7 linked regions of the Homo sapiens genome follow. The protein of the gene in region 2 purifies or fractionates together with the protein of the main gene of each other region. This does not show direct contact. Each region holds a gene or a part of one and is shown on either strand. Other genes may lie near its edges. The genes, in order: TMEM169, SLC20A2, YTHDC2, PKP2, MAP1B, IQSEC1 and CISD1.

Region 1 (4,545 bases), on a different chromosome or scaffold from region 2:
TCAAGATTGTATCTCCAATAGCCTGGCGAATATTTTCTAATTGAATTATTTAGCAAAGCATGTTCAAACCAAACTCATCTTTATTTACAGCAGAGAACCTCTCAGTGTTACCGAGAAAAAAGGAGAAGGGGGAAAGGAAAGGAGAAAGGGATAAAGAAGGAAACACCACAACATTTATGGAATTTACCGATTGTGTAATTTGGTAGGTTCTGTGTTGATTATACAGTACATGCATTATCTCACTGAATTACACATTCAAAAAATATTTACGTATTCATTTATTTTTAGAGATGGGGTCTTTCTATGTTGCCCAGGCTTGACTTGAACTCCTAGGCTCAAGCAATCCTCTCACCTCAGCCTCCTGAGTAGCTGGGACTACAGTCATGTGCAACTGTGCCCAGCTTCAGTAAATATTTATTAAGCAACACTATGTGCTATATATTGCATAGTTGTTCTAGGTACAACAATTTTTGTCTGTTTGTTTGTTTGTTTTGAGACGGAGTCTCGCTCTGTCGCCCAAGCTGGAGTGTAGTGGCGTGATCTCAGCCCACTGCAAGCTCCGCCTCCCGGGTTCACGCCATTCTCCTGCCTCAGCCTCTTGAGTAGCTGGGACTACAGGCGCCCACCACCACGCCCGGCTAATTTTTTGTATTTCTTTTTTAGTAGAGACGGGGTTTCACCGTGTTAGCCAGGATGGTCTCGATCTCCTGACCTTGTGATCTGCCCGCCTCGGTCTCCCAAAGTGCTGGGATTACAGGCGTGAGCCACTGCACCCGGCCTGTTTGTTTTTTTTTTTTTTGAGACAGAGTCTCGCTTGGTCACCCAGGCTGGAGTGCAGTTGTGCAATGTCAGCTCACTGCAACCTCAGCCTCCAGGTTCAAGCGATTTTCGTGCCTCTGCCTCCTGAGTAGCTGGGACCACAGGCATACACCACCATGTGCAATTAATTTTTGTACTTTTAGTACAGACAGGGTTTCACCATGTTGGCCAGGCTAGTCTCCAACTCCTGACCTCAAGTGATCCATCTGCCTCGGCCTCCCAAAGTGCTGGGATTACAGGTGTGAGCCACCATACCAGCCTAGGTACAACAATTTTATGAAGCAAGTATTATTTTGCAGAAGAGGACACTTGGACTGAATAATAGTAACAACAGAAACTTATTGGATGTTTATTGTGTGCCAAGTGCTGCTCTAAGTACTTTACAATAATCGTATTGTTCAATATTCACAGCAAACCAGTGAAGTAGGTACCTTTATTATTCCCATTTAGAGGAGAAATTTGCTCAAGCTTACATAGCTAGTATAGTGGTGGGACTGGAACTGACACCCAGGTTTGCTAATTTCAAAGCCCATGTTATTTTCATTGTGCCATACTACCCGCCAACATTTATGCAAAGATCTATAAACTTCTAGAATGTTCTTTGATGAACCCATTTCCTATATTAAGGACATATTTCCATATACCTAATAATAATTAGTCTCTAAGTCCTGCTAGTCATTCCTATGAAATCTTTTTGTTAATTTGTTCATTTGAATTTCTACTACCACCATATGCCAGAATACAGCCTTCATACTACTTCCTCTAAACTGGAAGACATTCTAAAATGGAAGACATTCCTCTACCATTTTTTACCATATTAATGGTGATTAATAAACAAAACAAAACAATATTTTTATTTTGTCTTGCCATTACTGACTAAAATATATCTGAAGGCCTGTCTGGTGTTTGAGGCTCTCCGTATTTGCACCCCACCCTAGGATTCAGTAGCAATTTTCCCCTTCCCTTTCCTGCAACGTGACTACTCAACACATGTGCTTATGTTGGTTTCTTCATCTTTGTCACGCTTCTCCACATCTTTCAAGCCTGGCTCAAGACAGACTCATTCGCTCACGTCCCCTTCTGTGACTACCCCAGCCCCCACGTCCTCTCCTCCCACCCTAACCCTGTGTTGCAGGTGTGTGGTGAGAATTCAATGAATGGCCCAGTATAAAATGCCTAATATGTGACTGACACTTCATAAATATTAGTTTCTATTCCCTTTCTTTTGCCTCCTTCTATTTGTAATTTAATAGCATTTGCCATCTGAACCATACACTTAATACTTAATTATGCAGCATTTCATATCATTGTATAGATTATAGATGGCATCATGAGTTTTCATTCATCTTTCTAGGTAGATAACAAACTTCTAGAGTTTAGGAACTGTCTTACTCTTCTTCTTAACCACCAATGGGAAAACCCCAGGGCTGGACATGTAGTACAAAGTCAGTATGTACTTGTTGACTTCATAGGACACAGAAGAGAAAATGTCTTACCAGAAATATGACATAAACAACTGTTAAGAAAGAAAGGCTTGATTCTCTTCCCCATTTTTGTATACTTTATTATGCTGTAAGTATTTGATCTGAGAAGCAGGTTCTAAACATTTCTCCTTCCTTTTAGATTTCACAAGAGAGAGGTTAAAAGAAAATTTTACCCAATTTCCAAGGCTTTAATCAATAGACTTGAGAGAAGAGAGAGGACTTTGTTCTTTTCTCTGGCAGTTAAGCTGTGCCCATCTTCCACTTCCACTTCCAGTCTAAAGATTATTAACAGGCTGGTCACGGTGGCTCATGCCTGTAATTCCAGCACTTAGGGAGGCCGAGGCAGGTGGATCACTTGAGATCAGGAGTTTGAGACCAACTTGGCCAACATGGTGAAACCCCCTCTACTAAAAATACAAAAATTAGCCAGGCATGGTGGCACACACCTGTAATCTCAGCTACTCCGGAGGCTGAGGTAGGAGAATCGCTTGAACCCGGGAGGCAGAGGTTGCAGTGAGCCAAGATCACACCACCGCACTCCAGCCGGGGCAACAGAGTGAGACTCTGCCTCAGAAAAAAAAAAAGATTCTTACAAATGTGATATTACAGAGTGTTAGCTTCAATCAACCATTAGCTCTGTACTCTTGGTCATTGTAGGAGGGAAAACAGGTTTTTAAGAACATGCTCATACTCTGGAACTCGTGCTTAGAATAACTGCTTTTAAGCCACTCTTGAAAAAAATTATCCAGATAATTCTTTTTTTGTTTTTGTTTTTTTTTTTTGAGATGGAGTTTCACTCTTGTTGCCTTGGCTGGAGTGCAATGGCGTGATCTCAGCTCACCACAACTTCTGCCTCCTGGGTTTAAGCGATTCTCCTGCCTCAGCCTTCTGAGAAGCTGGGATTACAGGCATGCACAACCATGCCCAGTTAATTTTGTATTTTTTAGTAGAGAAGGGGTTTCTCCATGTTGGTCAGGCTGGTCTCGAACTCCCAACCTCAGGTGATCCGCCCGCCTTGGCCTCCCAAAGTGCTGGGATTACAGGCGTGAGCCACTGCTCCCGGCCCAGATAATTCTTAAATTCATCCACCCAACTTTCCCATCTCCACTGCTTCCCCTCTGGTCTAGGAGGCCACTGTCTCTTAACTGTGGTTCTAAAAAAAATGCTCCTATCTTCCAGCTTCCACTCTTGCTGCCTTCCAATCAATTCCTCACTCAGCAGTAAGCAACATCTTTTACTTAATTTTTTTAATTTTTTGAGACAGAGTCTCACTCTGTCACCCAGGCTGGACTGCAGTGGCACAATCTCAGCTTCCTGCAACCCCCACCTCCCCCACCTGATTCTCCTACCGAGTAGATGAGATTACAGGCGTGTGCCACCACACCCGGCTAATTTTTGTATTTTTAGTAGAGATGGGGTTTCACCTCCCAAAGTGCTGGGATTCCAGGCATGAGCCACCCAGCCAGAAACATCTTTTTAAAACATAAAGAAAATCAGATGGTCAGGCGTGGCAGCGCGCACCTGTCGTCTCAGCTTCTCGGAAGGCTGAGGCAGGAGAATTGTTTGAACCTGGGAGGCAGAGGCTGCAGTGAGCCGAGATCGCTGCCACTGCACTCCAGCCTGGGATACAGAGCCAGACTCCATGTCAAATAAATAAATAAAAATAAAAAAGAAAATCAGGCTGTTTTCTGCTTAAAATCCTCCTGTAACTTCCTACTGTTATACATGTGGAAGTCCATGTGGCCTAAGGACCTCCCCATCCTGCCACCCCATCTGTACCACCATAGTAGGGGTACTATGCTCCAATCACACTGGCTGTGTATTTCTTCCTCAAGAGCACCAAATGCTTCCAAATGCTTGAGGTCTTCTTAACTGCTGTCTATCTTGCTGCTCTGCTGCTCCACCCCGCCTCTTCCTGTGCCCGTTTTTGTTTTTTTGAGTCCTTGTTCAAATGTTTCCTCCTCTGAGCCCTTCTTGACACCCGAACTAAAAACTTGACTCCCTGCTCTGCCTCTCATTATTCTTTATCACAACAGCTTGTTTCCTGTGTAAGGCTTACCAACATTTGTCATTATTTATTTTTCTTTTACTTATTTATTGCATAGCTCTTCTACTAGACTTCAAGCCCTATGAAGTGGTACCATAGAAGTAGGCCAACAAATAGATGCTCGATAAATCTTTTTAAGTGACTGGGTGAAGTGGTAGCAACTCAGGAGTAGCTTATTTTTTGTGAAAGCCTGAG
Region 2 (4,545 bases):
GGCCCAGCAAATTTTTGTAGTTTTAGTAGAGATGGGGTTTCACCATGTTGGCCAGGCTAGTCTCGAACTCCTGACCTCAAGTGATTCACCCACCTCGGCCTCCCAGAGTTCTGAGATTATAGGCGTGAGCCACTACACCCGGCCTTTTATATGCATTTTCAACATTGCCATAATCACAGTGTACATAAAATTGTGTGTCCTGATTTTTCCCTTTAAATAACCTTATTGATGGGTCAAATTATTATATTGTATATGGTGTGGTATTTATTCAGTTCAACTCAATAAGCATTTATATGCTTGATACCATTCAAAGAAAATATACAGTGCCTTGGCTCTCCAATAATAGAATACCATAATTACGAAGCTTGCAGTGACATTTTTATTTCATGGATGTATCTCATGGCATCTCCTCTCCCTCCCAGAAGCAGGAACAGTGGCATGGGGGAGGGGCTGCTCCTTCTGGGGTCAGGGAAGTCCTCTCTTAACGGTGATATTTGAGCAGGGACCTGAATGCAGGGAGGAGGGAGCTGTGCAGCTGTGGGGGAAGATTCTTCCTGCAGAGGGATCCTCAGGTACAAAAGCCCTGAGGTGAGAGTGTGCCTGGTCTTTCTAAGGGATTGCAAGGGGACAGTGACACCAGGGCATTGTGAGGGAGGGGAGAGGAGCTAAGGCCAGTGAGCTGCGAGGAGGCCTGAAGGGTCTTCCTGACCCTGGCGGGGCCTCTAGCTTTTCCTCCTAGTGAGATGGGATAGTGGCGTAGTGATAGGATTGCCTCATTCTCCAGGCTTCTCTTTTCCTCTCTGGGGCCTGTCAGTTCCTGCCTTGGTCACCCTCCAGATGAGTGACCTCTCGCCAGGCCTGTAAACTCTCCCAGACACATGCATGATAATATACTGTGCTCATTGCTTATGCGTAAATGTGGAGGTGGGTCGTTGGCCACACCCAGTGGTATCACAGACTCAGATTTGGTTATTGCTGTTCCAGGAAACTGGACACATTCCACATATTTGAAAAGCCATGCAACTAAATTTCTCATTTCTTAATCTTTTGCTCATTTGAGGCACTTGTTCCTCTCTGAAAATAATGACCAAATATGTTTTTCCGATTGCATGAAAAATGTAACCTAGTAAGGATTACTATTAGTCTGTAATTATTAAGCATGCTTCAACTCCTGACAATTCTAGAAAGCAGGTTTTTTTGTGTTTTTGGTTGGGGGTGGTTATCCTAATTATAATCTTCCTTGAATTGCTTTATGGTTAGGTCCGTCACATGCCAAAGTTAGATCCCATTAGCAGGCTTAAAACATTTATTTCTGAAAGAACAAACTGTTACAGGTTGCTGAGTATAATTGATTTCTTTTGTTTCCTTTCTGCTACAGGAGGAGACATCACAGCTTTCCCAGATCGGGAGGAAAAATATGGAATGTGTTTTACCGCTGACTGAACACAACCAAATGAACTGTCCTGACAGTAGTTTGCAAACCAGCAGCTAGCAGTTTGTCCAGCCTCTAACATTGTCCAGCACTTTCCAGAGCAAACTCACTGTTTACAAGAACTCTTGGCCTTACGAAGTTTATAACCTCAAGCTTTGTTTATTTAAAATATTCCTGCAAAAGAAAAGTACCCGGCACCCACTTTCCAAAATGGCCATGGATGAGTATTTGTGGATGGTCATTTTGGGTTTCATCATAGCTTTCATCTTGGCCTTTTCTGTTGGTGCAAACGATGTTGCCAACTCCTTTGGTACAGCCGTGGGCTCTGGTGTGGTGACCTTGAGGCAGGCATGCATTTTAGCTTCAATATTTGAAACCACCGGCTCCGTGTTACTAGGCGCCAAAGTAGGAGAAACCATTCGCAAAGGTATCATTGACGTGAACCTGTACAACGAGACGGTGGAGACTCTCATGGCTGGGGAAGTTAGTGCCATGGTTGGTGAGTAGCCTCTTCTCTATACCGATGGGACATCCGCCCACTGACCCGCTTCCCTGCAGTACTTTGCCCATATCCATAAATGTGATTTTTGCTTTGGCTTTTCAAAAACTGGTTGGATGTTTCACATTTACTCTCTTATTTTTGCTTTCTGCATATTAATTTATGATTTTTAAAGTGTTTAAATATCAGGCAACCATTTATTTTCTGAACTTTTGAGCAAACTTGGTTGCTAAAATAGATTTCAGCTAAGTGAATACTTTTCAGAAAGTACAGAAAAAGACCTTTGTAGAACAGCGCTTTATTATTTTAGAGTTGTTTGAAGGTTGTCTAAGTGAATGTGTTTTCAAGGTTGATGTATGAAATTTCCAGGAAGGTTGATTTAGATTTTTTTCTTAAGGTTTTTCATCAATTAGGAGGCAATGTTTTGAAAACTTGGATGTCAAAAATAATATTTATTAGTCTAACTTTTATATTCACAGTTTAAGTTCTAAAGAAGTTACCAAATAAATCTTAAGTGCGTGTGTTTCAAGAAATTCTGGTCTCTTACATTATTTGTCATCCTTTTGTTGGCTTTTGTTTTGATTTTCTGATTCTACCTCTGGGAGCTCCATTTGGTATGTTTGTTTTGTTTTCCGGCCAAAAAATAATGTGCGTGTTGCCTGGTGATAGCATGACCTTTTATTGCAGTTTCAAGTTGTCTACATGAAGTGTGGAGGTGTGTGAACTGTGTGAATAAGCAGAGTGGCTGGTTGGACAGAGTGATGTCCCCATGGCCTAAGCGGACACAGATCTCGGCCCCGTGGGTCTTCCCATCACTGCCCTCGCTACGACAGAAAAGAACCTTCCCGGCAGGCGTGTGTTAAGTGCAGCTGACAGGATTCTTTTTCTGCTTGCCTCTAGGTAGAGATGACGACACAACAGACAGCTGATGTATACGGGTAATTTGGTTAGGGAGAAGAGGGTTAGAGAGGAATTCTACCACCTTCTGCTTTCAACAGGACATATCCTCTTGTAGGAAGAGTCCTGCAGCAGGAGGTAAGATGCTGGTGTACTAAGAATACAGCCACATTCCCCCGAGTTCTTTATTTTGTCACTTACATTTTTTCTTTTCTTTTTTTTTTTTTTTTTGAGACAGAGTCTTGCTCTGTGGCCCAGGCTGGAGTGCAATAGTGTGATCTCCGCTCACTGCCACCTCCACCTCCTGGGTTCAAGCTATTCTCTCACCTCACCCTCCGGAGTAGCTGAGACTAAAGGCGTGTGCCACCGCACCTGGCTAATTTTTGTATTTTTAGTAGAGACAGGGTTTCACCATGTTGGCCAGGCTAGTCTTGAACTCCTGACCTCAAGCAATCCACCCACCATCACCTCTCAAAGTGCTGGGATTACAGGCGTGAGCCACCACACCTGGCCTGTCACATTTCTTAAACACCTGGAATTTAGAGATTATTGACCAAGTTCACAATGGCCCAATCTCATGTTGTTCGAGGCGTCTGATAAGAAGCAGCCTGTTGTACTAAGGAATTGCATATTCACCAAGCACTGTAGGCCAGTAACACACACCAGGGAGCTCCTACTTCTCAGCTTGACGCTTTGTGTTGTAAAGATGTCAGGTTCAACTTTGGGAGGCCCCCGAGATGGGCAGACCACTTGATCCCAGGAGTTTGAGACCAGTCTGGGCAACATAGGGAGACCCTGTCTGTACAAAAAAACTAAAAAATTAGCTGGGCATGGTGGCACATGCCTGTAGTCCTAGCTGCTTGGGAGGCTGAAGTGGGAGGATTGCTTGAGCCCAGGAGGTTGAGGCTGCAGTGAGTTGTGATTGTGCCACTGCACTCCAGCATGGGCGACATAGCCAGACCCTGTCTCAAAAAAAAAAAAAAAAAAATCAGGTTCAAGATCACTTTCATTCCAACAACTATAGTCATTATTGAATTTTACTTACCTTCATGGAACATATGTATATCTCAGCATAGTCAGATATAATGGAAATTTCTCTTAGAAAAATAACCGTTCTTTGTAAAATTCACCTTTTTAGTTGTGATAGATATCTAAGATTTAATTCCATCAAGTGGAAATTAAGATTTTTCTAGTCAGGAAAATCTGACTAGATGTGTTGAAAGTATGGGACAAATCAAGAAAAACACTGACAAAATTAAATCTTTTTTTTTTTTTTTGAGACGGAATCTCGCTTTGTTGCCCAGGCTGGAGTGCAGTGGTGTGATCTCGGCTCACTGCAACCTCTGCCTCCTGGGTTCAAGCGATTCTCCTGCCTCAGCCTCCTAAGTAGCTGGGATTACAGGCACCCGACACCACACCCAGCTAATTTTTGTATTTTTGGTAGAGATGGGGTTTCACCATGTTAGTCAGGCTGGTCTCAAACTCCTGACCTCGTGATCCTCCCACCTTGGCCTCCCAAAGTGCTGGGATTACAGGCGTGAGCCACCACACCCGGCCACAAAGTTAAGTCTTAACTGAAGTTTTTCCTTTTGATGGATAAACTTTAGAGGCATGGTTCTGCTTATTAAAGAAATTTGTTAGGGAAGCCACGCTGAAGACCTCCGTGTGACAGAAGGGTTCATGAACAAGGCTTCATCTGCTCACTCTTTCTGCAGAC
Region 3 (4,545 bases), on a different chromosome or scaffold from region 2:
AGGAAAACAAGTAGACCAAACAATTCCTAGAGCTCACTCATGGCTGGGAATATTTCGTGTTATCTTCAGCCAGAACAGATAGAACCTGTAATATATATGGTACTGGCCCACAGAAGGGCCATACCTTAGTATTGGAACTAAATTAATAACAGAATAAAGACTGCTCTGGCCCATTCCTAACATTACTTAAAAGCAAACTTCAAAAGGATTCAACTGATTGCAACTAAACTGTGCATCACAACAAAGTCTAACGCTATTGAAAGGAATATACAAAAACCTAGCTGCCCAACAAAATTATAAGAAACACAAAGAATATACAAAGGTTGTTATTTACATAATTAAGGCTGAAGAGAAGTTAAATACTGTTGTCATCTTGAGACTCTGATTGCAATGAGCAATCAGACACATTTACAAGTAGATTTTTACTAGCTCTTTACAAATCTGAACCCGTTTCTCATGTGCATATGGAATATAAAATTTGTACTTGCATTTTCTCCACAGACAAAGCACTGGATAACAAGAAGACAAAACAGAAAGAAAAGTAAAAGAAAAAAATGCCAAAAGTAATAAACAGAAACAGTCTCAGAGATGACAGAGTTGATGTAATTAGGAGACAAGAATGTTAAAGCATCTGTTATAAATACATTCATTATGTCCAAGAAGGTAGAGGAAAACTTGAACATAATGAGAGGAGAAATGGAAGATATTATTAACTTTTTTTAGGGGGACAGGGTCTCACTCTGTCATACAGGCTGGAATGCAGTGGCACAATCACAGCTCACTATAAAATCAAATTCCTGGGTTCATGTGATCCTCCTGCCTCAGCCTCCCCAGTAGCTAGGAATACAGGTGGCCCATCACCATGCCCAACTAATTTTTTTATTCTTTTGTAGAGATGATAGGGTCTTCCTATGTTGCCCAGGTTGTTCTCAAACTCCTAGCCTCAAGCTATCATCCCAACCTGGCCTCCTAAACCACTGGGATTACAGACATAAACCACGCCGGGCCAGAAGATATATATACATATATATATATATATATATATATTTTTTTTTTTTTTAATTTTTAAAAGACTTGAACTTCTAGAGATGAAAATACTGCCTTTAAAAACACATTAGAAGGAAAGAACAGCAGATTAGACACTAAATAAAAACATCAGTGAACGTACAGACAAAACAGTAGAACTATCTGAAATGAAGACAGAAAAATGACTGAAAAAAATGAAGAGAACATCGGTGACCTGTGGAACCATATGAGATGGTCTTACATCTGTGTATCCAGAGTCCCAGAAAGGAGGTTCTTCAGGCAGAAGTAAATAATACAAAATGGACATTCGTATTAACATAAAAGTATAATGAGCACAAGATTAGTAATAATAAATGTAAAAATATATTTTTCTGACTTTGAAATCTTCATAAAGGTAACTGACTATGTAAAGTAAAAACAATACATTATAGCATTTATATAAAAACAAAATGTATGAAAACAATATAACATAAAGGAGTAAAGTGTAAAATAAAAGAACACTGTTGGCCAGGCATGGTGGCTCACGCGTGCAATCCCAGCACTTTGGGAGGCAGAGGTGAGCAGATCACTTGAGATCAGGAGTTCGAGACCAGCCTGGCCAACATGGTGAAACCCTGTCTCTACTGAAAAATACAAAAACTTAGCCAGGCATGGTGGCACATGCCTGTAATCCCAGCTACTCAGGAGGCTGAGGAAGGAAAATGGCGTGAACCCAGGAGGCTGAGCTTGTAGTGAGCCGAGATCGCGCCACTGCACTCCAGCCTGGGTGGCAGAGTGAGACTCTGTCTCAAAAAAAAATAATATAAATAAATAAATAAATAAATAAATAAATGGCTTCATAAGTGAATTCTATCAAATATTCAAGGAAGAAATAATACCAATTCTACACATCTCTTCTAAAATACTGAAGTGGGACAAACACTTCCCAACTAATCTTATGAGGCCGGCATTACTCTGACATCAAAACCATACAAAGATACATAAGAAAAAAGAACTACAGAATAATACCCCTCATGAACAAAGATCCCTCATTTAACAAAATTATATCCAGCAATATATAAAAATAACACCATGACCAAGTGGGGTATAAACATAAGAAAATCAAGCAATGAAATTCACCATACTAACAGACAAAAAATGCTTTCCCCCTAAGATCAAGGGAAAGATATGTGGCTCTCAACACTGAACAATATTTTGCTGGAGGCTCTGGCCAGAGAGATAAGGTAAAAAAGAAATAAACAGCAATCAGATTGAAAAGGAAAAGAGTAAAATTATCTTTATTATCAGAAGGCATAAAAAGCTAATAGAATTAATAAATGAAATAAGGTCATAGGATTCAGGGCAGATATACAAATATCAAATGTATTTGTATATACTAACAATGAATACCTGCAATTAAAATTCTAAAGAACAGTATCAAAAACATTAAATACTTAGGGAGAAATTTAACAAAAAATTGTAATACTTGTACTCTGAAATTTATAAAACATTGTTGAGAGAAATTAAAGACTATCCAAATAATGAACAGATATACTATGCTTATGGATTAGAAGACTAAGAAGTGTTAATTGTTGATTTTCTTTAAATTGATCTATAGATTCAATGCAATTCCACTCAAAATACCAAAAAATTTTTCTGCAGAAACTGATAAGCTGACTTTAAAGTTTATATGAAAGTACAAAGGACCTGGAACAGCCAAAATAATATTGAAGAAGATAAACAAAGTTGAAGGACAATTGATTGAAGGATTAACTGATTTCAAGACTTACTATAAAGCTACTAAAATAATGTCAGTGTACCACTGGCAAATATATATATAATAATATGTCATAAATATTAATTATATTAATATATAAATATACTATATATTATGTATGTACAATATATTAATATATAAATACATAATATATATTACATATAAATACATTATATATATTATATGAATACATAATATATATTTATATATTATATATGAATACATAATATATATTTATATATTATATATGAATACATAATATATATTTATATATTATATATGAATACATAATATATATTTATATATTATATATGAATACATAATATATATTTATATATTATATATGAATACATAATATATATTTATATATTATATATGAATACATAATATATATTTATATATTATATATGAATACATAATATATATTTATATATTATATATGAATACATAATATATATTTATATATTATATATGAATACATAATATATATTTATATATTATATATGAATACATAATATATATTTATATATTATATATGAATACATAATATATATTTATATATTATATATGAATACATAATATATATTTATATATTATATATGAATACATAATATATATTTATATATTATATATGAATACATAATATATATTTATATATTATATATGAATACATAATATATATTTATATATTATATATGAATACATAATATATATTTATATATTATATATGAATACATAATATATATTTATATATTATATATGAATACATAATATATATTTATATATTATATATATATATAGAGAGAGAGAGAGAGAGAGATATTAATGAAACTGAAGAGTCCAATAAGTAGACCACATATTTATGGCCAGTTGATTTTTGACAAAGGTGTCAGTGTAACTCAATGGAAAAAAACAAATGGTTTTAACAAACGGTACTGGAACAATTGTATAAGCAAAAGCCAACGAGTAATTCTTGACTCACCCATACTATAAACGAAAATTAACTTAAAATAAATCATATATCTAAAATGTAAGATTGCCAACTATAAAACTTCTAAAAACATAGGAGAAAATTATGATCTTGGGTTTGGTACACAAAATTTCTTAGTACACAAAAAAATACTAATCATAATAGAAAAAGCTGATGAAATGGACTCCATCAAAATTAAAAACATTTGCTCTTCAAAAGGCACTGTTAAGGAAATGGAAAGACAAGCCACATACTGTTAGAAAAAATATGCAAAACATATAATAATTAAGCCTTGTACCCAGAATATACAGAAAACTCTTACAACTCAGTGAAAGATGACAAATCAACAAAAACCAACAACAAAAAGTGAACTAAGATTTGAACAGACATTTCACAAAGATGATACACAATGGCTAATAAGCACATGAAAAGATGCTCAACATCATTAGTAACTGGGAAAATACAAATTAAAACTATAATGGCCTATTACCACATACCCAACTGGAATGGCTAAAATTACAAAAGCTAAAATGCCAAATATTGTCAAGAATATGGAGCAAATGGAACTCTTAAGATTGTTAAAGGAAATGCAAAATAGTGCTGTCATTTTGGAAAACAGTTGGACAGTTTCTTGTAAAGCTAAATATACATTTATCAAACAACTCAAACAATACTAATCCTAGGGATTTGCCAAATAATAGAAAACATATTTAGACACAAAGATTTTACTTGAATGTTAGTACCAGTTAGTACAATGTTAGCAACTTTATTCATAATAGCCAAAAAGTGCAAA
Region 4 (4,545 bases), on a different chromosome or scaffold from region 2:
ATCTTAAAAGATTTAACTTCTCCCATTACAGTAAAGTTGAGGACATGTTATTCCAGGTAAGACATGGGATCTTGCCACTTATTCAGAGGAATTTGTATAGCAATTCATATTTGAATGGATCCTTAAAGTCATTTACTAGCAATAGTAGGAGCTTAAAAGAAAGCAGAAAATATACTGAGACTCATCAAAGACCATACGTATGTCCGCACTCCTGAGTTGGTGAAGGAATTTTTTTTGTTTTTTGTCTGTCTGTGTTGGCATAAAACATACGATTCATTTCCTTGGACTTACATATTTTTTAAAACTATATTTTATCTTCTATTCTTACTTTCCAAGAAGAACAACCAGATATTGATGGAAATCACAACAGCCCAAGTAAGCATTTGCTTAGGCTGGAAAATAAGTAGAATTTGTTGGTTTAGAAAACTATAGTTGGCTGGGCAGGGTGGCTCACACTAGCAATCCTAGCACTTGGGGAGGCTGAGGTGGGTGGATCACTCGAGTCCAAGAGTTTGAGACCAGCCTGGGCAATATAGTGAGATCTCGTCTCTACAAAATTTTAAAAATTTAAAAATTAGCTGGGCATGGTGGCATGGGCCTGTAGTCCCAGCTACTTGGGAAGCTGAGGTGGGTGGATTGCTTGAGCCCTGGAGACAGAAGTTGCAGTTAGCTGAGGTTGGGCCACTGCACTCCAGGCTGGGTGACAGAAAGCAAGACTCTGTCTCAAAAAGGAAAAAAAAAAAGGGAACACTATGGTGAAAAATTGTTTCAAAGCAGATGAAAGTCTAATAAAGTTTTATACTATTGAAAATTTAACCAATAGTTGTACAGTGCTATATTTTGTGACCAGTTAGCTCACATAATCAACCATGAGAAACAACTTGGTGTATCAGGTATATGCTAGAAAGTACTGGCTATGAGTTCTTAAAACGTTGAATATGCCAGGGACAGAACAGCTCTCCTGCAAGAGTGGGCCACACATACCACATGCCAGTGTGCGACTGACTAATCCATTGCTGTTATCACTCACACGATATACCAGCCACTAGAGTCCTTATTTTTCAGGAGCCCCCTAAGCAATTCAAGAGCTATCTTCTGATATACCAATTTATGACATTTGGGGGGCAATCCTCAAATCACTGCTCTAGGTAATGACAAAAACACATTTTAAATGTCCCCCTCCCACTTTTTTTATTGAGATGGAGTCTTGCTCTGTCGCCCAGGCTGAAGTGCAGCGGTGCGATCTTGGCTCACTGAAACCTCTTCCTCTCAGGATCAAGCGATTCTTGTGCCTCAGCCTTCCGAGTAGCTGGACTACAGGTGTGTGCCACCATGCTGACTAATTTTTGTATTTTTAGTAGAGATGGGGTTTTGCCATGTTGGCCAGGCTGGCCTCAAACTCCTGGCCTCAAGAGTTCTACCCGCCTCGGGCTCCCAAAGTGCCAGCGCTTTAGGCGTGAGCCATTAAATGGCCCTTTTATATCACAGGTGTTCATGTCATATTTTGTTTGAGGTATTAGAATATGTAATTGTAGAATTTGTTATTATAAACTGGTAATTTAGCATCCTGGTGAAGTATTAAATAGAAATATCCTGGAAGTATCTAAATCTGTTCATTTCTCAGCCAGGCACGGTGGCTCATGCCTGTAATCCCAGCACTTTGGGAGGTCAAGGTGGGCAGATCACTTGAGTCCAGGAATTTGAGACCAGCCTGGGCAAAAAGGCAAAACCCCATCTGTACAAAAAAAATACAAAAATTAGCTGGGTGTGGTGGCGTACACCTGTAGTCCCAACTACTCAGGAGGCTGAGGTGAGAGAATGGCTTGAGCCCGGGGGGCAGAGGTTGCAGTGAGCCAAGATGCACTCCAGCCTGGGCAACAGAGACAGACGCTGTCTCATGAATGAATGAATGAATACACTGTTCATTTCTGTAACTGTGTCTTTACTTTGGCATTCCTGCCAATTATTTGCTGAGATATCTCATGAGACTTTAAGACTTGTAAGACTTTATAACTTCCATGGCAAATATCACATTATACTCCCAATAATATAAAAAAAGGTGAATTTATAGAACTCACAAATTATTTTTTGCTTTAAAATACTTACTACAGGTTTTCTTTGTAATGACTTTCAAGTCATTATATTTCCCCTGCCTCTCACGTGCCAGGGTTAACCCCTCCCAACTGATTCATAACTGCTAACCCAACTTTTCTTTTTCTTTTTTTTTTTTTGAGACAGATTTTCACTCTTGTTGCCCAGGCTGGAGTGCAATGGCACGATCTCGGCTCACCGCAACCTCCACTTCCCGGGTTCAAGTGATTCTCCTGCCTCAGCCTCCCAAGTAGCTGGGATTACAGGCATGCGCCACCACGCCCAGCTTATTTTTTCTGTACTTTTAGTAGAGACAGGGTTTCTCCATGTTGATCAGGCTAGTCTCAAACTCCCGACCTCAGATGATCCACCCGCCTCAGCCTCCCAAAGTGCTGGGATTACAGGCGTGAGCCACTGCGCCCGGCCTCTTTTTTTTTTTTTTTTGAGACAGGGTCACTCTGTTGCCCAGGCTGGCGTGCAGTGGTGCATTCAGAGCTCACTGCAGCCTTGAACTCCTGGCCTCAGGCGATTCTCCTGTCTCGGCCTCTCAAAGTGCTGGGATTACAGGAAAGAGCCACCATGCTAGGTCTGTTCCTACTTTAAATCCACCAAATCTGTCAAATGTATTTTCACAAAACTCCTGCACTTTTCATGTTTCTTCCCTGTGGAAATATCTGTGACTCACAATTATCAAATTCTTTAACTTGCATTCAAGATCAGAGGAGAGGGGTGAAGGAGGCTGCCTATAAGGGACACAACTGAACTAAGTTAACTGGGCAAGAGAAGGAAGGGAGGGAGACAAGGAGGGGTAGAAATACCAAGCAAGATAAACTGCCTGTGTGTGTTTGGTGGGGAGCAAGGGTAGTGGCCCCAGGGATGAAGTTTGAGAAGTTGCAGGCATTAGATCACGAAGAACTTGGAATGCTGTGTTCAATAATTTTACTCTTGCAGATAACAGTAAGAAACTGAAGGAATTTAAACTGGGAAATGATGCAATGAGATTTTAGAAAGTTCACTCTAGCAGCTGTGTGGAGAATGGATTGGAGTGGGGCCACGTTAAAACAAAGAGGTTATTTTCTCTTCCAAAGAGATTTTGACAGAAAGAACTGTATCTTACACTACCACTTCTAGCACAGTCTTGTATCAGTACTTGACAAGTTAATTGTTGATTAGTCAGATTACCTGTACATTAGAAATATCCTAGTTACACAAATTCAGTTTGCGCTTAATCATTCAGGCAGGTATGTATTCTGTGGCTCACCAGAATGGAACTAAAATGTGAGTATGATAGTCACATACATGCTTTTGTCTTGGGGTAGATGGAAGGTGCTCAAATAGTTTCGACTGTTCTCTGTCATTCTGGGTATACGGAGAGGAAGGAAAGTTGCTTCCCCAGAATGTAGGCAGACTTTTATTAGAAAAGCAGACTTTGGGCCAGGTGCAGTGGCTCATGCCTGTAATCCCAGCACTTTGGGAGGCCGAGGCGGGTGGATCGGTCAGGAGATCGAGACCATCCTGGCTAACATGGTGAAACTCCATCTCTACTAAAAATACAAAAATTAGCCGGGTGTGGTGGCACACACCTGTAATCCCACTTACTTGAGAGGCTGAGGCAGGAGAATCGCTTGAACCCGAGGAGACGGAGGTTGCAGTGAGCCGAGATTGTGCCACCGCACTCCAGCCTGGGCATAGAGCGAGACTCCATCTCAAAAAAAAAAAAAAAAAAAAAAAGAAAAGCTGACTTTGTTCATTTTGGCAAGGTTGTTTCTATATTTGAATAATATATGTTTACTATCATTCTTTTATCTGTATGGCTTGTGTATTTATCTGTAATATTTTGGTGGCCTATAAATTCATATTATCTGTCAAGAAAAGTTCCCATTTGTTTTCATTCTTCAATGAAAAAGAGTAATCAAGATCCAATAAGCTTGATGCTCACCCACACCCACCCCATAAATAGCTTACTGAGAGATTCAGAAAAAATAATCCATTAAGCTTCTAATGAAGGTTTTCATCCACAAATTCTGGAAATCAAGGAATTGCAGAACTTTGATTATGACTGCTTAGGTTAACGAATGTTATTAAGTCTAAAGCTGATTATTCCAAGAATATAAATATGTGAATTATTTTAATAGTAATGGCAGGTTGTGTTTTCAAATGCTTAAGTTTCTTTTTTTCCAACTGTCCATTTTTATTTAAATCTACATATTGAGCTCTCAAGCTTTTGTCTTTAAACACTTTAAGAACATTACAACTGTTTTTATGTCCAATATCCAATTACCAGAAATGGCATTATAGAAAAGATACACAGGCCGGGTGCGGTGGCTCACGCCTGAGATCCCAGCACTTTGGGAGGCAGAGGTGGGCGGATCACCTGAGGTCAGGAGTTCGAGACCATCCTGGCCAACATGGTGAAACCCTGTCTCTACTAAAAATACAAAAAATTAGCTGGGC
Region 5 (4,545 bases), on a different chromosome or scaffold from region 2:
ACACTGGATCCTTAAGGCATATTTGTATTTACCCTTGGTTATATTGTATTCAGTCTTCCTATCCTGTAAAGAATCAAGGTGGATTATACATAGACATTACAAAAAAAAAAGATTCTGGAAACTCAGTTCACTGCACATCTAAAATATCTTTAGATTACACACCACAGACCTTTTCAACCAGGAGGAATATTTTCAAATAGATGTGTGTCCACTAAATACAGGCAGAAATTTCTCATATGATCAATGGGAAGAATTCAGATGTGGAAGAGTTAACGTGCTTAAGGAAAGGTCAAATTATAAGGGAGAATTTTATGGCTCTTCCTGGAAACATTAATAGCCTCAGTTTGCATTTGTGCTAATGGAGTATTTGAATTTTAACAAGAAAGGCATGTTGAGATTTCGCAGATCTTTTTAGTGCAGAAATGATAAATGGGTTCTTTTTGTTTCACAGAGAGCTTGACAGGTTGAGAGGTCTGAATTCATTAGAATATTTTACTTCAATGTATACACTATATACTAGTCTAGTGCAAAAAAATCGAGTTCCTGTCTGAGCTGCTTAATTGGTATTGTTGACTGAATTCTCCTTGTTCCAGGTCTGAGCTCTACTTTGTCTTCTACCCTGTCAAGCTGGGTCAATAAGTTAATAATGAGACATATGCATTTAAATTAAATTCATACAATTTTTCTGTCTTTGTTCTAAGTAATGTCTAAATTGGTACATTATTTGAATGACTTCATCCAGGGTTATCTGCAGACTTGCTCTTACATTGTTACTTGCCATTTTCCCTTGGCTTCAGTTAACTTGTCATGGCACACACAATTAAATGTTTGCTTTATATTTTCATACATATTTTATTTTTGACATATTTGTAATTTAGCAATAGAAAAAGTACTAAATGATAAATCCACTTAGTAATTTCTAAATTATACTAGTAAACGGCTGATAAAAATATTTCTCATTTTTACACTCCCAATGAAACTAAAAATGTAGGGTTCTTTTTTCAAGAGAGCAATTTCCACCCAAATTGTTTCTTAGCAATGCACAACCACTACTACCACTTATAAAATAAAGGTTATGTTGGATTTGCCAGCTATTTTAGTTGGAAAGGAAAATTTTGGAATCAGGCCACTTTCCATACCAATTTTAGAAATAAAATAATTTGTAATTACTTTGTATCTCCTGCTGGATAATATTGGTAAAGGCAAAGAGTAGTTGTTAATGAAGGTTCATATTGCATTTAGTAGGTTTATGTAGTTCCCCTTTGTGCCTAACAAGGAGCCAACAGTGAGCCCTCTAAAGTTTACAGGACAGAAAAATATCTCTTTGGCCCTTCCCATATTCTCCCCTCTCTGAATCTGGCTGGAGGGCATCCTGGGGTGTTGGTGAAGAGGTTCTAAAGAGGCTTTCAGAAGCAAGTCATCCTGGTCTCTGTTGGGGAGCAGGGAAGCCCTCTTTCTAATTTTCACCCCAATATACACCAAGTCAAGCTCTTCCTGGAGGCTTTGTTTCCCCAGCATTCTAAGACTGTACCCCTTCTGGGCTTACCCAGGTGGGGGCAGAATAACTCCAGGCAGTTGGAGGCAGTGAACCCCATTCTTTCAATGTCTGGAGCCAAAAGGCATCCGTCATCTCTGAGAACAATCTGGGCCTGCTCTGTGGCTATTGCCCAGCCCTGAAAGTGAGCTCCTTGGGACCAGGGAGCAACAAAAGATCTTTCCTTCTCAGTTCTCTGACCCCAGGTGGTAGCAGTGCACACAAGGGAGGCTGACATGCACATGATATACACAGATGAGAAAAGGAGAAAAGAATAGGTTATGGGGCAGGGAGGCAGGGAGGGGTCATTAAAGAACAAGTCAGGGTGAAAAATGAGGAGAAGTCAGGTACTCTTGGTGTGTACAGGCTAGATTGTTCCAAGTTTTCCAATCATGTAAGCATTTTGCAGGGTTGTTTAATGAAACCAACAATTTAAAAAAGCACCTCCCATTTAAAAGCTAAAATTCATATTTCTAAAGGTGACAGTGGATTGAAGAAAGCAAAATGAAATGACCATGCATTGTATGTTGATGGCACATGGGTTCTATCTGACAGTTATTTGGGCCTTTGGCAAGTTGATTTTCCTTTATGGGCTTTAGTTGCTCCCTCTGAAAAACAGGCTTTTGGATATTTTTTCCAAGTACCTAAATCATTAACCTAGAATCATAAGATTATATTTGTAAAACTATGCTAAAAAGTGGTCTGAAATCAGATTGAAATCATAAACTAAATAAATGAACTAAAGGAAATGCTACATTTAGGAATGCTTTATTTCTCAGAGGAAAAAATTCTTATTTTTTCCCTTGAACTCATCTTTAATTTGCTTTTTTTCTTTTTTTAAAGCCAGCAACTTGATGTTCATAACATATGTATGTAATGACGATAATATCTTACATACAGAGCTCATAGTTTCAAAGCATTGATAATAAATAATTTAGGTCTGAGATAACATCTTACAACACAAGCAAATGAGAAGTGACATAATTATTTGCTTGTCTAAAAAGTTATAACTTATTTTTTTAAAGTAAGCCCTTAGAGAAGGTGAACAATTTAATGACCTTAAATTTGGGGACTGCCTTGTGTTTCAGCATGGATCACAGAGCTGTCGTAGATAATACCAATTAAGCAGTGCAAGCAGAAATCCATCTGTCTTCGACTTTGAAAAGTATAGGCAAATATAGTAAATTTAAGACTCTCTAACATTTAATTCTCACCACATATGGTATTGGTTTCTTATTTCCCCTGTTAAAAGAAAAGGAAAACTAAACCCCAAATCTTTCCTGGGTTTTAAATTCTCTTACCATCTTAGACTGAAGGACATTCAGTTAAGTGACATCAGAATGTAACAATGTAATCAGCTAAACTTTTATCTAAAAATGCAGAGCAGTAGATGTTACATTCATCTATCTTTTCACCAACAAATCTTGCTGATTCCCAGTGTTAACTAAAGGAAAAGTTATAATCTAACGGTAATTGAAAACATCCAACAGACACTTAATATTCTTTATATGTTTTAGTTCCTTAAAAAAAAAATGAAACAATGAAAACGTTCACAAGGCTCTAGAATTCAGTTTGCAAGACACGGATGTATGTCCTCTATGTATTAAAATAAAACCAAGAAGCAGGGTTTTGCTGAAAATGAGAACCACTAGCTAAATCCATGCTGGGGGCTAATTAGGGAGGAGAAAAAGGAGGTGCCAAAGAGTAGTAGTTGGTGGTAGCGAAAACGATTTGGAATAAAGTCCTGCATAACTAAATAAATGAAGCTAGCCTAGTCCGAGGAAACACTATTGTTCCAAACTCTGGAGGAGACATGTCCAAAGCTTTCATTATGCTTTCCGAATATAGTTGAGAAAGCAAGAGGGACCATCTCTCTTCCCTGGTTTCAAGAGGCATTTACGAAGCATCCACATTGGGACGTTCCAGGCCTGTTGATTTACTGCATTACCACCATGTCTCTACAGATTTATAGATTATTTTCTAGGCTTCCCAGAGAGCCCTCAGTAATCGGATGGCAAGAATCCAAGTCGCCAGGGTCTCCAAACCCAGAATCTCAGTTAAGGCAGGAGGGGAAATAGGAAGAAAGAGTAACAGATGCGGAACTGCCTTCCCAGCCTGCAACACACAATCATCAGAGCTGGCCCCCCTGGAGCAGCTCCATCTTGCTTCACACAACAAGGCCCAAAGGCACCAAGCAACAACAGCAGTGGCCTCTGGAGGAGGCCCAGCTGAGACCTGGCGGCTGAAGCAGCAGCTTGTCGTGCACAGGAAAACAGGACCAGCCTGCTCTGTTGCTAAGTCATCTCAGACTGTCTGAAAAGCTATGGGAGCAGGATTTTCACTTAGCGCTGGAAGGGCCTGCATCTTGAGCTGCAGCCAAGACCCCAGAACCCAGGAGAGCCATCTTCAGAGGAAAAGCAGCATCTGCTACGGTGTGTAAAGAAACGGCTCTGCTCACTCACTTGGTTGATTCTTAATGGGATCAATACAGTCATTTCGGAGTTCCATGCAAAAACCTGACCAAATTAGGGAATTAAAAAATCAGGAAGCCATGATGTCTATTGCAAAGGGAACACAAGGGGGCTTCTGGGGTTCCAGTAATGTCTGTTTCTTGATCTGGGTAACCCAGGCGTGTCCGTTTTGTGAAAATTCGTTGAGCTGCTCATCTTTGATTTGTGCCCTTTCCTCTCTATATAATACTTCAACCGAATTTTTTAAAAAATTAATGTCAAGAAGACAAATCTGAATTTTGTCACTAAGTGCTAGTAGTGTAAAAACGAGTAAAGGCAGGGAGCCCTTCTTCATAGCAGTACGTGGATGCGTCTGTTTTCTCCATAAATAGATGCAGCTTGTATAAACCCTCTGAGGAATAGGGCGCTGAAAGGATGATCAGATGAGTAACAAAGCAGGAAGATAATTACGATCCGAAGGTGATTGCTGAACCATCTCCCAGCATGGGGCGCTGCCCACAAGTGGATGGCCATACAAAGGCAAGCCCTGAAAACTGTTGT
Region 6 (4,545 bases), on a different chromosome or scaffold from region 2:
CACTTCCTGCACACGCATCTCTCATCGTCTTTCAGCGGCAAGCTGAGCTGCTGGTGGGAAGAGTGAGCTGTGTGAGGCTCTGAGGAAGAGCTGCTGCAAGGCTGTGGATTGCACGTGGGGAACACCTACCTGCTGGAGCAAAGCACTGAGTGCTTACCCTGGTATTTTCCCAGCAGGGGTGTGCAGGATCCAGGAAAGGGTTCTCTCTCTCTCTTTTAAGACCCAGGTCTCACTATGTTGTCTAGACTGGCCTCAAACTCCTAGTTTCAAGTGATCCTCCCGCCTCAGCCTCCCAAGCAGCTGGGACCACAGGCATGTGCCATTGTGCTTGGCTCCAGTCCTTTTTAACTGTTCAGGATGCCTAAGAGATGTGGAAGTGGATGGATGCCCAAGCACCTAGCTTCAGCCCCCAGGTTTCCCAGCCTACCCTCCAGCTCAGGCCCTAAGACCTAGTGGGCAGATTCTACTCTCTGCTCCAGGCCAGTCAGAGCCCTGCATCCTGCTTGCCCAAGTGGTTCAGGGAGAGGCACAAGAGCCAGAAGGAGCCGATGAGGGGAGGAGAATCTCTCTTCCTCCTACTGGGGTTGCCTTGAGGTCAGACTACAGGCCTGGGGTTCTCTGATGGCCCTCCTGCCCTGGGTCAGGGAGGATCTGGCAAGGGGCAGGGCCAACCCTAAGCCAGATGGAGCCAAGAAATACCCGGGACTTTTCAGGTCCGTGAACCAGTAAAGCCTCTTTGCTTAACCCAGTTTGATAGAGTTCCTGTCACATGCAACAGAGAAGGCCATGATTAACGCAGAGACCAACACAGGGTTTGGAGTGCCCGAGGATCTCCGTGGTCAGAGGTCTGAGCCCTGGTAACTGTTAACTGCTTGTGGGGGTGAGGATAGACTCACCAACTTCAGCATTCGGAGAGTCCCTGCACACCTGAAAATGCCCTTCCAATGCAGCAACCTAGGGTCCTGCAGAGAGGTGCCACTTCCAGCCTTTCCCACACTGCCAGGGCCAGCAAGCTCGCCACCTCCGGAGGCTGCCTGCTCCACCAGCTCTGACTTTTACACGCACTTTCTGGTAGCGTGAACCCAAGTGGCTTCCCTGGTATTGATCCCAGAGAGAAGGCAGGAGAATCACCCTCTGAAGTGTGGCAAGCACCCCCTGCAGGGCTTCCCTTGGCACTGTCTTCTTCTCCAAGACTCAGCACCAGCCACCTCAGACCCAGGCCAGGGCTCGGGATCCTGGGCTGCGGGTAGCATCAAGGGCCACAGGCCACAGTGGCCTGTGTCTAGGGGAGAGGGGTCCCAACCTCCAAAGACCCAGCTCAAAGTGCTCCTAAGAGAGCCCATCCTTTCCATCATCAGCACCACAGGCTACGGGAGCAGCACTGCACATCCTCTGGGCCCAGCACTTCTGGTGTGTGGCCTTGAGCTTGGGCCTGGGCTCTCAGCCTCGCTGCCTGCACCTACGCTTCCCAGGATGGCTGTGGCGAATCAGTGAGACAATAGGCGGAAGGTGTTCGGCATGGGGCCTGGCGCTTGGTCCAGGCTCTGCACAGGCCGGCTCTGCTCACTGCTATTTTTATCAATGACAGCAGACACGTTAAACACAAGGAGCACAGAGCTGGAGCATGCAGATCAGGGGTACTCTCTGAGCCCTGTTCCCACAGGTGGAGGGGAATGGCCCCCTGGGGGCGCTGGAAGGGTGAAACAGCCACGCTCCCTGCAGGATCCCAGTGACAGCATCCCCTGCCTCCCTTCTGCAGTAGCTCCAGCAGGTGGATGGGACCCGAGGCTGCTGGGCCCCAGGGGCTGGGCGCCGAGTGTAGGGGAGGCCAGGTCCACAGAAGGGGGCTGCCTCCAGGTACAGGGCCCTGTGCTGGAAGGGCCTCAGAGGCCCCTGTGGAAAGCTCTTAGCCAAGTAGTCCAACCACACTGTCACACCAGGTGGCCACCCAAGCCCTGCGTACATGTTTCTCAGAGACAAGCTTCTCACTCCTTTTTGAGGGTGCCCGTGTCATCATGAAGCAGCTCTGGGGCCAAGGATGCTCTTGCAGAGGTGGGAGAGGTCTGGTGTGGCTCACCTGTGACATGGTCACCTGGGCTCATTCCAGGGAGGAATGTGACAGACAGAAAGTGGACATAGCCAGGCATGTACCCCTGACGGTGTGTACCAGGTACAGGAGCAGGAGACGCTGGGGTGGGGTTCCAATGCGGAGGTGACAGACTCAGTGAGGTCCCTGCTGGGCACCTGCCCCAGCTCCATGTGCTGCAGGGCTGCATGGCGTCCCACAGATGGTGTGGCTCTGCCTCCTGGACTCAGTTTACAGATCTGTCACCCAGTGAGGAGGTAGGGAGCCCAGGGATACCTGTGGTAGCAGTTCCTACATCATGGATTTTAAGAGGATGTGTTCAGGAGCCAAGTGGCCAGGGTGTGACGTCCCTAGTCGTCTACCAACTATGTGAGACTCAGCTCACCCACTGCACAGGGTAACGTGCGTTAGCGCGTGACAGGCCCTGGGAACCATGCCTGGCGCACCGTCAGCACATGGAAGGATTAGCTATTCTCGTTATTTCTGACTGCTTGGCCCATCACAATGCCTGTTTGGGTCTTCCTAAAGCCCAGCCCTGGAAGCTCCCTTCCCTTGGCACTCTGGACACAGAAGCCCTTGCTGACCACAACAGCTGCCATCCACTGCACAAACATGTTCCGGGTGCAGGCAGTGAGGCTCAGAGAGTTCAGGGAGTTGCCCCAGGTCCCACAGCTGATAGGTGGCAGATCCAGGACTGAAACCCTCCTGCCTCTGGCTCCTGCACCCCTGCCCTCCCGCAGCACCGCCAGCCAGATCAGCTGTGTGGCTGTCAGCTGGGCCAGCTGGGAGTAAGCGGCAGATGCCCAGAGGAACATCTGGAGGCCTGGTAGACCTCGGCAGCCCCCGGGATGCCCTCCCCACCAACCTACACCACTTTCTCAGGCTTCGTTTCTGTTCTTCCTCCCCGCTTGCTGCTGGCTCTCCCACTTTGGTACATGATTCCCTTAAAGGGGGCGTCCCCCCAGACAGAGGCCTGTGCCAGGAACGCTCACTGCTTCGTTGCTAGGAAGGGGTGGGAACTGAGAGCTGTGCTGGAGGCCGGGCAAAGGCCGGGACATACCACCCCGCAGGGAGAGAAGTGGAGGTGGTACACAGGCGCAGGGCCAAAGAAAGGGAAGGGAAAGGGCAGTTCCTCCTTCAACTAAAAACGTGCCTAGCTAAGACCCAGCAATTCCACTTCCAGCCATATGATCTAGAGGCCTGCCAGGTGTGTGTGTAAGGATCACAACCACTGTCACACTAGTGCTAGTTATGAAAAGCTAGAAGCAACTGGCCAAATAACCTATAGCCACGGCGGGGACTACCACTCAGCAGCACACAGGAGCAAGACAGCCTGTGTGTAGAGCCCAGCGATACCCTCATAAGACAATGTCACAGTCCCGCGCCCTGAGTGATGTCAGCAAGGATCCAACAGTAGCAGCTAATACATAGTAAGGCCCTATCCTGTGCCACGTCCTGCTTTCAGCACTTCACACAGACCAACGCTTTACCCTCACCGCCCTGGGAGGAGGGTGCCCCTGGCATCAGCCATTTCACAGATGCGGCCACTGTGGGACGGGGGGTTATGCTGCCCAAGGACATAGAGATACGATGGGGCACAGCCAGGATTTAAAGCCAGGCAAGCAAGCCCCAAGCTGTGTTCTTAACCATGGCTGTCTAGAGTTCCTAGAAGTGCACACAAATGCACAGGAAAAAAATCTGGAAGGAGAGACTGCAACATGCTGAGTCCAAGAGGATGTTATCCTGAGCTGCAAGGCATGCATTTTCTGTGAAGAATGTATTCACGTGCTACACAGATAATTAAAAGTTAACTGAATAAGAAAGAATCTACACAGACCAAAGCTGGCTGGTTGAGGGAGGTGGTTTTTCCTGGTTTCCTGTCTCCCCACTGCTGGCCTCCACCTGTCCACTCTGCAGGGACCCCTGGTTATCCCAGCCTCCCCTCTAGGGCACATGGGCCTGGGTCGAGAGATGATCCTGGAGCTCGGCTGTGCCCAGGAGCAGTGGGGACAGACTTCAGGGACCGTGTCAGGTGGGCCAGCAGGATGCAACCCTCCCCTGTCCAGCGCATTGCTCCGGCCGTGGCCTGTGCAGCAGTGAGAGCAGCCGTACTCTGCAGCAAGCCACAGGCAGATCACAGGCTCAGGAGAGAGCATCCTGGTAGATGTGAGATGTCCAAGACTCTTTGTTCTTAGCTGAGCAAACCAGTAAGCCATTGCCCCTTACTGGCCCCAAGTGAATGCACCATTCCCCAGAGGCTCTTCCTGAGACAGGCCTCTCTGACATCCCAAGATAGTGCTTCCATGTGTCCCAGGAATGGCTCAAAAGCACCATCTCCCCCAGTCTAGAAGAAGAGAGAACAGGGGGCAGACGGAGCAGGGAGCCAGCTCAGGCACTGGCTTTGAGGTGGCCAGGTCCCACTGCGCCATTCATCACCCTAGTTTGACCTCCTGGGAAAA
Region 7 (4,545 bases), on a different chromosome or scaffold from region 2:
TTATTCCTACAGATTGAAAATCAATTTAGATCTTTTAATTGGGGGAAAGATATCATGTCTCTTCTCAATTAAATGAATTTGTAATTATAAAGGGTTTAGAATGATATGTGACAGTGGTAAGCACTATATAAATATATGTTAAATATAAAGTGTGTACGTGTATGCAGAACTCTTGTTCATCATCAGAAGAAAAATAAAAGGTAGTTTATAAAAAAAAATTTAACGGGAATCAGGCCAGGACTGGAATCAGGCAGAGGCAGTGAGAATGAATGATTGGAACTGAAATACTCTTAAGATCCTGATCATTGAGATAGCTCTTGATACCAGTATGGTCGATAAGACCATTAGTTTATTATATTTTCTAGTACTAAGTGGCCTTCACTGCCTACTCGTCCAGTCTCTTATGATTCCTCCTCATATCCAAATAGATGACCTTTCTGAACATCATCCTGCTCCTTGATAACTCTAGCACTCATTGATCACTCTCACCCTTAACCCTTTCTCTTCTATTTGCAAGGAAGATGTTAACTCTTAGGCTGTTCTCTCTCCATGTCCTCCAGATGCCGTTTTCTTTTGCTTAAATCTTTGCCTCAGTGATATCTGTTGTTCGTAAATATTTAGTGCCTCATAAAGATTTTCTTCAGCCTTAAGTCACTCATAATTCACCCTCATCTTTAAAAAAAAAAAAAAGCCAACTATACCAGGTAATTTTGAAAGGCATCCCTTAACCTGCCTTCCCCTGAAATCACTTTTTTTTTTTTACTTTACCCTCAAGTTGCAACATAGGGATTTGTCTGTTCATCTTGTACTTCATTATCTATCCCAAACCCTGATCACTACAACGCTTGTAACCAAAATTACATTTCATAAATTCTTATTCTCTTTCATATTCTTGTGTATTTTATTGAAACTAATTTTCTAATTCATTTAACCACAACATAGGAAAATATTGTTTTGGTTCACTAAATTCACCAAGTCATTTAAAGTCATTATTTAAGGGTTTTTGTCTGAAAAGAAAGGTATGGATCATACTGAAAATAAAAGGGATAGCTCCTATAAGTTATAAACAATAAATGAAAAATAAGAGGGCTGGGTGCGGTGGCTCACGCCTGTAATCTCAGCACTTTGGGAGGCCAAGGCGGGCAGATCATGAGGTCAGGAGTTCGAGACCAGCTTGGACAACATGGTGAAACCCCCGTCTCTACTAAAAATACAAAAAATTAGCCAGGCATGGTGGCACGCATCTGTAGTCCCAGCTACTTGGGAGGCTGAGGCACGAGAATTGCTTGAACCCAGGAGGCAGAGGTTGCGGTGAGCTGAGATTGCACCACTGCACTCCAGCCTGGGCAACAGTGCGAGACTCCATCGCAAAAAAAAGAAAAATAAGGGGGGAGTTTGGAGCTATAGACTGGCCAAATTGATGGTGGTTAGAGCTAATTGAGGGTAAATGGGATTCATTATAGTATTCCCTGTGTGTGTCTGAAATGGTCCATAATAAAGTTTTTTTAAAACATAGCTTCTTATATATACCTGAAGTTTTTTGTTTGTTTGTTTGTTTGTTTTTAATATATGTATCAGGGAGTAAATTCCACACCCTGATACAGCAGGTTAAGAAGAAGGTAAAGATAAGTCATTTAGTATAAGAGCAATGCAGTGTAAGGATAGAAAAATTGCACATAGGAATTGCAAATTTAAATTAGTCATCCATTATTTCTTTTGACTCAACCAACATTATTGAATATCACTTATATGCCAGGCCTTGAGAAAAAAAAAAATTACCAGGCACGGCCTGCCAGCCTATGGGAGATCTAAGGGAGGGAAGGGTTTAAGCACAGCTCCCCTCCCCCTCTCCTCATAGAAGAGGAGAAACATTATGATTCTATGGCAGTTGATGGTGGGCTGGAGAGGGCAGTTTAGAGCAGAAAAGGGGCTAAGGTAAAAGAAGCCGAGAGAGATTTCTAAGTTAAAGCAAAATAATGCTCACAGTAAAAGAAAAAAAAAAAGCTGAAGATTGGGTTATATACAAGGCTGATGAGTTTGGGAACAAGTCCACGTTTTCTCTCTCTCTGAATAATTTTAAAGAGAAAACCAAAGATTATACAATAGTACTCCAATGGAAGAATAAGCAAATGGGAGGATTATTCAGAAATTATTGGAAGTGTTACCTTTCTCTACATTTGTGATCTTTAATGGTATTTGTGTAGATATAAAGCATGATTACACAAGGTCTGGTAGGGTGAGGTTTGACCTAACTACAGGAATTAACTGTCCTTGAGAAATGTCTATAGAAAAGAAAAGCGAGGGCTGGTCATGGTGGCTCATGCCTGTAATCCCAGCACTTTGGGAGGCCGAGGCAGGCGGATCACCTGAGGTCAGGAGTTCAAGACCGGCCTGGCCAACATGGTGAAACCCCATCTCTACTAAAATTACAAAAATTAGCCAGGTGTGGTGGTGGGCGCCTGTAATCCCAGCTACTTGGGAGGCTGAGGCAGGAGAATTGCTTGAACCCAGGAGCAGAGGTTGCAGTGAGCTGAGATTGTGCCATTGCACTCCAGCCTGGGCAACAGAGCAAGACTCCATCTCAAAAAAAAAGAAAAAAGAAAAAAGAATTGGGTCTCAGTAAAGTTCCTTGTTGCTTCTGAGATTATGACAATTCTTAATAGGCATATACCCATTTATCAGGGATTATTGGATGTTGCTATTTTTATTTGTTCAATTTCTCAGGTCTTCAGTTCTTTCTTTATCCTAATTGTTGATTTTTGGACCTGTCATCATTTTTGTCTATCTCTGTATAGTTTCCTTTTCCTTTAGAGTTGCCAGTGGCATCCACAGCTTTTTGCCAGAAAAGACTGATGATTCAGGCTACACTCATGAAGTGATAAAATAACAACTTTTTTTTTTTTTTTTTTTTTTTTTTACTTCTGGGAACTGTTGCATTTGTCCCTAATGAGATTACAGAATTAGAATTTGGGAAGGGAAAAAAAAAAAAGAAATGGAAATTGTTTTCTCAAGACCTTAGAGCAAATACAAAGCTATTTTCCTCGAACACATGGTACTGTGACATTGGCATAGGGTCATAAGTGGCCCTTGCTAGGGGTTGGGGGTAGAGCACAAAGTGTGTGTTTTGATTCCCCATGGGGCAGCTAGTCTTGGGTATCTGGAGTCAGTTTCCATTTCTTTCAATGATGCCTTTGGTGTTACCCCTTTTCCATGTCAGTTATTCTGTCCTGTCTCCCACCATCACAAAATCCAAGGGAGGTAAAGCTTAAAAAAAAAAGTGACCTGTGGGTGCAGTTGGCAAATTACATGAGAAAAAAGAATGCAAGAAGAATGGGATTTAATGACTAGGAGAGATTATTTTCACTTATCATGATGAGTTTCATGTAGAAATTCCTATAGTATTCTCTTTTTAGGTCATGAAACAAATTAACCAATACTAACCAATTGTAGTTCTTTGGATCTCAGGACTGTTTGCAATATGCAGGTGCCATCAAACAAATATGTTATGAAGTACTTTATAATTCACCTAAAAAGTAAAGTGTAACTAAAATCGACAGCATTAAGGAAGTTGCGTTATTTTAGTCTTTTGGGATATTGCCCCCCTTTAAGTTTGTACTAAAGATGATGTTCAGCAAATGTTGTGGTGCATATACTATGCAAAGCAGCATTTTCGCCCATTTTGTGATAGGTACATTAGCTATTCAGAGTGGCTTTCCATTAGCTAAGAAGTGGATTGCTACAGCTCCTGGCATAGGAAATGTTTTCTCAAGAAAGTTCCATGGTAAATAACATTAGAAAGGAAGATCATGAATCTAGCCAGAAGTCATAGCAAAATTGTAGACCTGCTTGGAATAACCACAGGGTAATACCATGAAGCAGCACTAAAGTTGGAGATAAATCTACACATAATGTGTACCTACTTAAAAAATGTCTTCTGATGAGGCCAAAGGTTTGAAGCTGTCAGGTGATATATTAACTTAACTTGTCTTCTCAGTCATGCAGGACCTGGGAAAGACGAAACATTAGTGTTTATTAGGGAATTATAGCAAGAAAGAATGATAATGCTACGGGAAGGAAAACAGTATAAATTAATTTGTTAAGAAAAATACTACCGTGGTTGAAAATAAAATCCAAGGAACACATTAATTAGAAAGTGAGGATAAACCGGAAGAGGCAGAAATTATGCTCTCTTACGAGATGAGCAAAATGCAGGAATAAGTTAGATAAAGTCTAAATTATTAAATAAACTAGAAAAGAAGACCAAGATACAAGAGACTGAGAATGATCCTTTATATTACAGTTTTAGAAGATTAAGCTCCAGTTTTATGTAAGGTACTATTAGGTATGGTGAAATAAGAAATTTGACTCAATAGTGCAAGTAAACTATACAACTAATTATTAATTATGTGTTTTTATTTGGCCTTGGGATGTGTTTTTTTGTACTTGTCTGTCTAGGGTTTTATTTGATAGTCTGGGAACTTATTTCAAACACTGAAGATCTGACTCAGGAAGTGCTGGGAAGGAGTCCAGTGTGTTTATCCTGAC

The links.
Region 1: the proteins of SLC20A2 (region 2) and TMEM169 purify together in Homo sapiens (co-immunoprecipitation; one large-scale study listed by IntAct). This does not show direct contact.
Region 3: the proteins of SLC20A2 (region 2) and YTHDC2 purify together in Homo sapiens (affinity purification with mass spectrometry; one large-scale study listed by BioGRID and IntAct). This does not show direct contact.
Region 4: the proteins of SLC20A2 (region 2) and PKP2 purify together in Homo sapiens (affinity purification with mass spectrometry; one large-scale study listed by BioGRID and IntAct). This does not show direct contact.
Region 5: the proteins of SLC20A2 (region 2) and MAP1B purify together in Homo sapiens (affinity purification with mass spectrometry; one large-scale study listed by BioGRID and IntAct). This does not show direct contact.
Region 6: the proteins of SLC20A2 (region 2) and IQSEC1 purify together in Homo sapiens (affinity purification with mass spectrometry; one large-scale study listed by BioGRID and IntAct). This does not show direct contact.
Region 7: the proteins of SLC20A2 (region 2) and CISD1 purify together in Homo sapiens (affinity purification with mass spectrometry; one large-scale study listed by BioGRID and IntAct). This does not show direct contact.

The regions. Positions count from the first base shown.
Region 1 is NC_000002.12:216,084,412-216,088,956, reverse strand, and holds part of TMEM169 (transmembrane protein 169), read right to left. Parts: intron 1-4,545.
Region 2 is NC_000008.11:42,469,488-42,474,032, reverse strand, and holds part of SLC20A2 (sodium-dependent phosphate transporter 2), read left to right. Parts: intron 1-1,378; 5' UTR 1,379-1,642; coding exon 1,643-1,931; intron 1,932-2,831; exon of another isoform or gene 2,832-2,966; intron 2,967-4,545. UniProt on the Homo sapiens protein: Sodium-phosphate symporter which preferentially transports the monovalent form of phosphate with a stoichiometry of two sodium ions per phosphate ion.
Region 3 is NC_000005.10:113,585,911-113,590,455, reverse strand, and holds part of YTHDC2 (3'-5' RNA helicase YTHDC2), read right to left. Parts: intron 1-4,545. UniProt on the Homo sapiens protein: 3'-5' RNA helicase that plays a key role in the male and female germline by promoting transition from mitotic to meiotic divisions in stem cells.
Region 4 is NC_000012.12:32,886,276-32,890,820, forward strand, and holds part of PKP2 (plakophilin-2), read right to left. Parts: intron 1-4,545. UniProt on the Homo sapiens protein: A component of desmosome cell-cell junctions which are required for positive regulation of cellular adhesion.
Region 5 is NC_000005.10:72,109,782-72,114,326, reverse strand, and holds part of MAP1B (microtubule-associated protein 1B), read right to left. Parts: exon of another isoform or gene 840-4,545; intron 1-839. UniProt on the Homo sapiens protein: Facilitates tyrosination of alpha-tubulin in neuronal microtubules. Phosphorylated MAP1B is required for proper microtubule dynamics and plays a role in the cytoskeletal changes that accompany neuronal differentiation and neurite extension.
Region 6 is NC_000003.12:12,929,980-12,934,524, forward strand, and holds part of IQSEC1 (IQ motif and SEC7 domain-containing protein 1), read right to left. Parts: intron 1-4,545. UniProt on the Homo sapiens protein: Guanine nucleotide exchange factor for ARF1 and ARF6. Guanine nucleotide exchange factor activity is enhanced by lipid binding. Accelerates GTP binding by ARFs of all three classes.
Region 7 is NC_000010.11:58,271,550-58,276,094, forward strand, and holds part of CISD1 (CDGSH iron-sulfur domain-containing protein 1), read left to right. Parts: intron 1-4,545.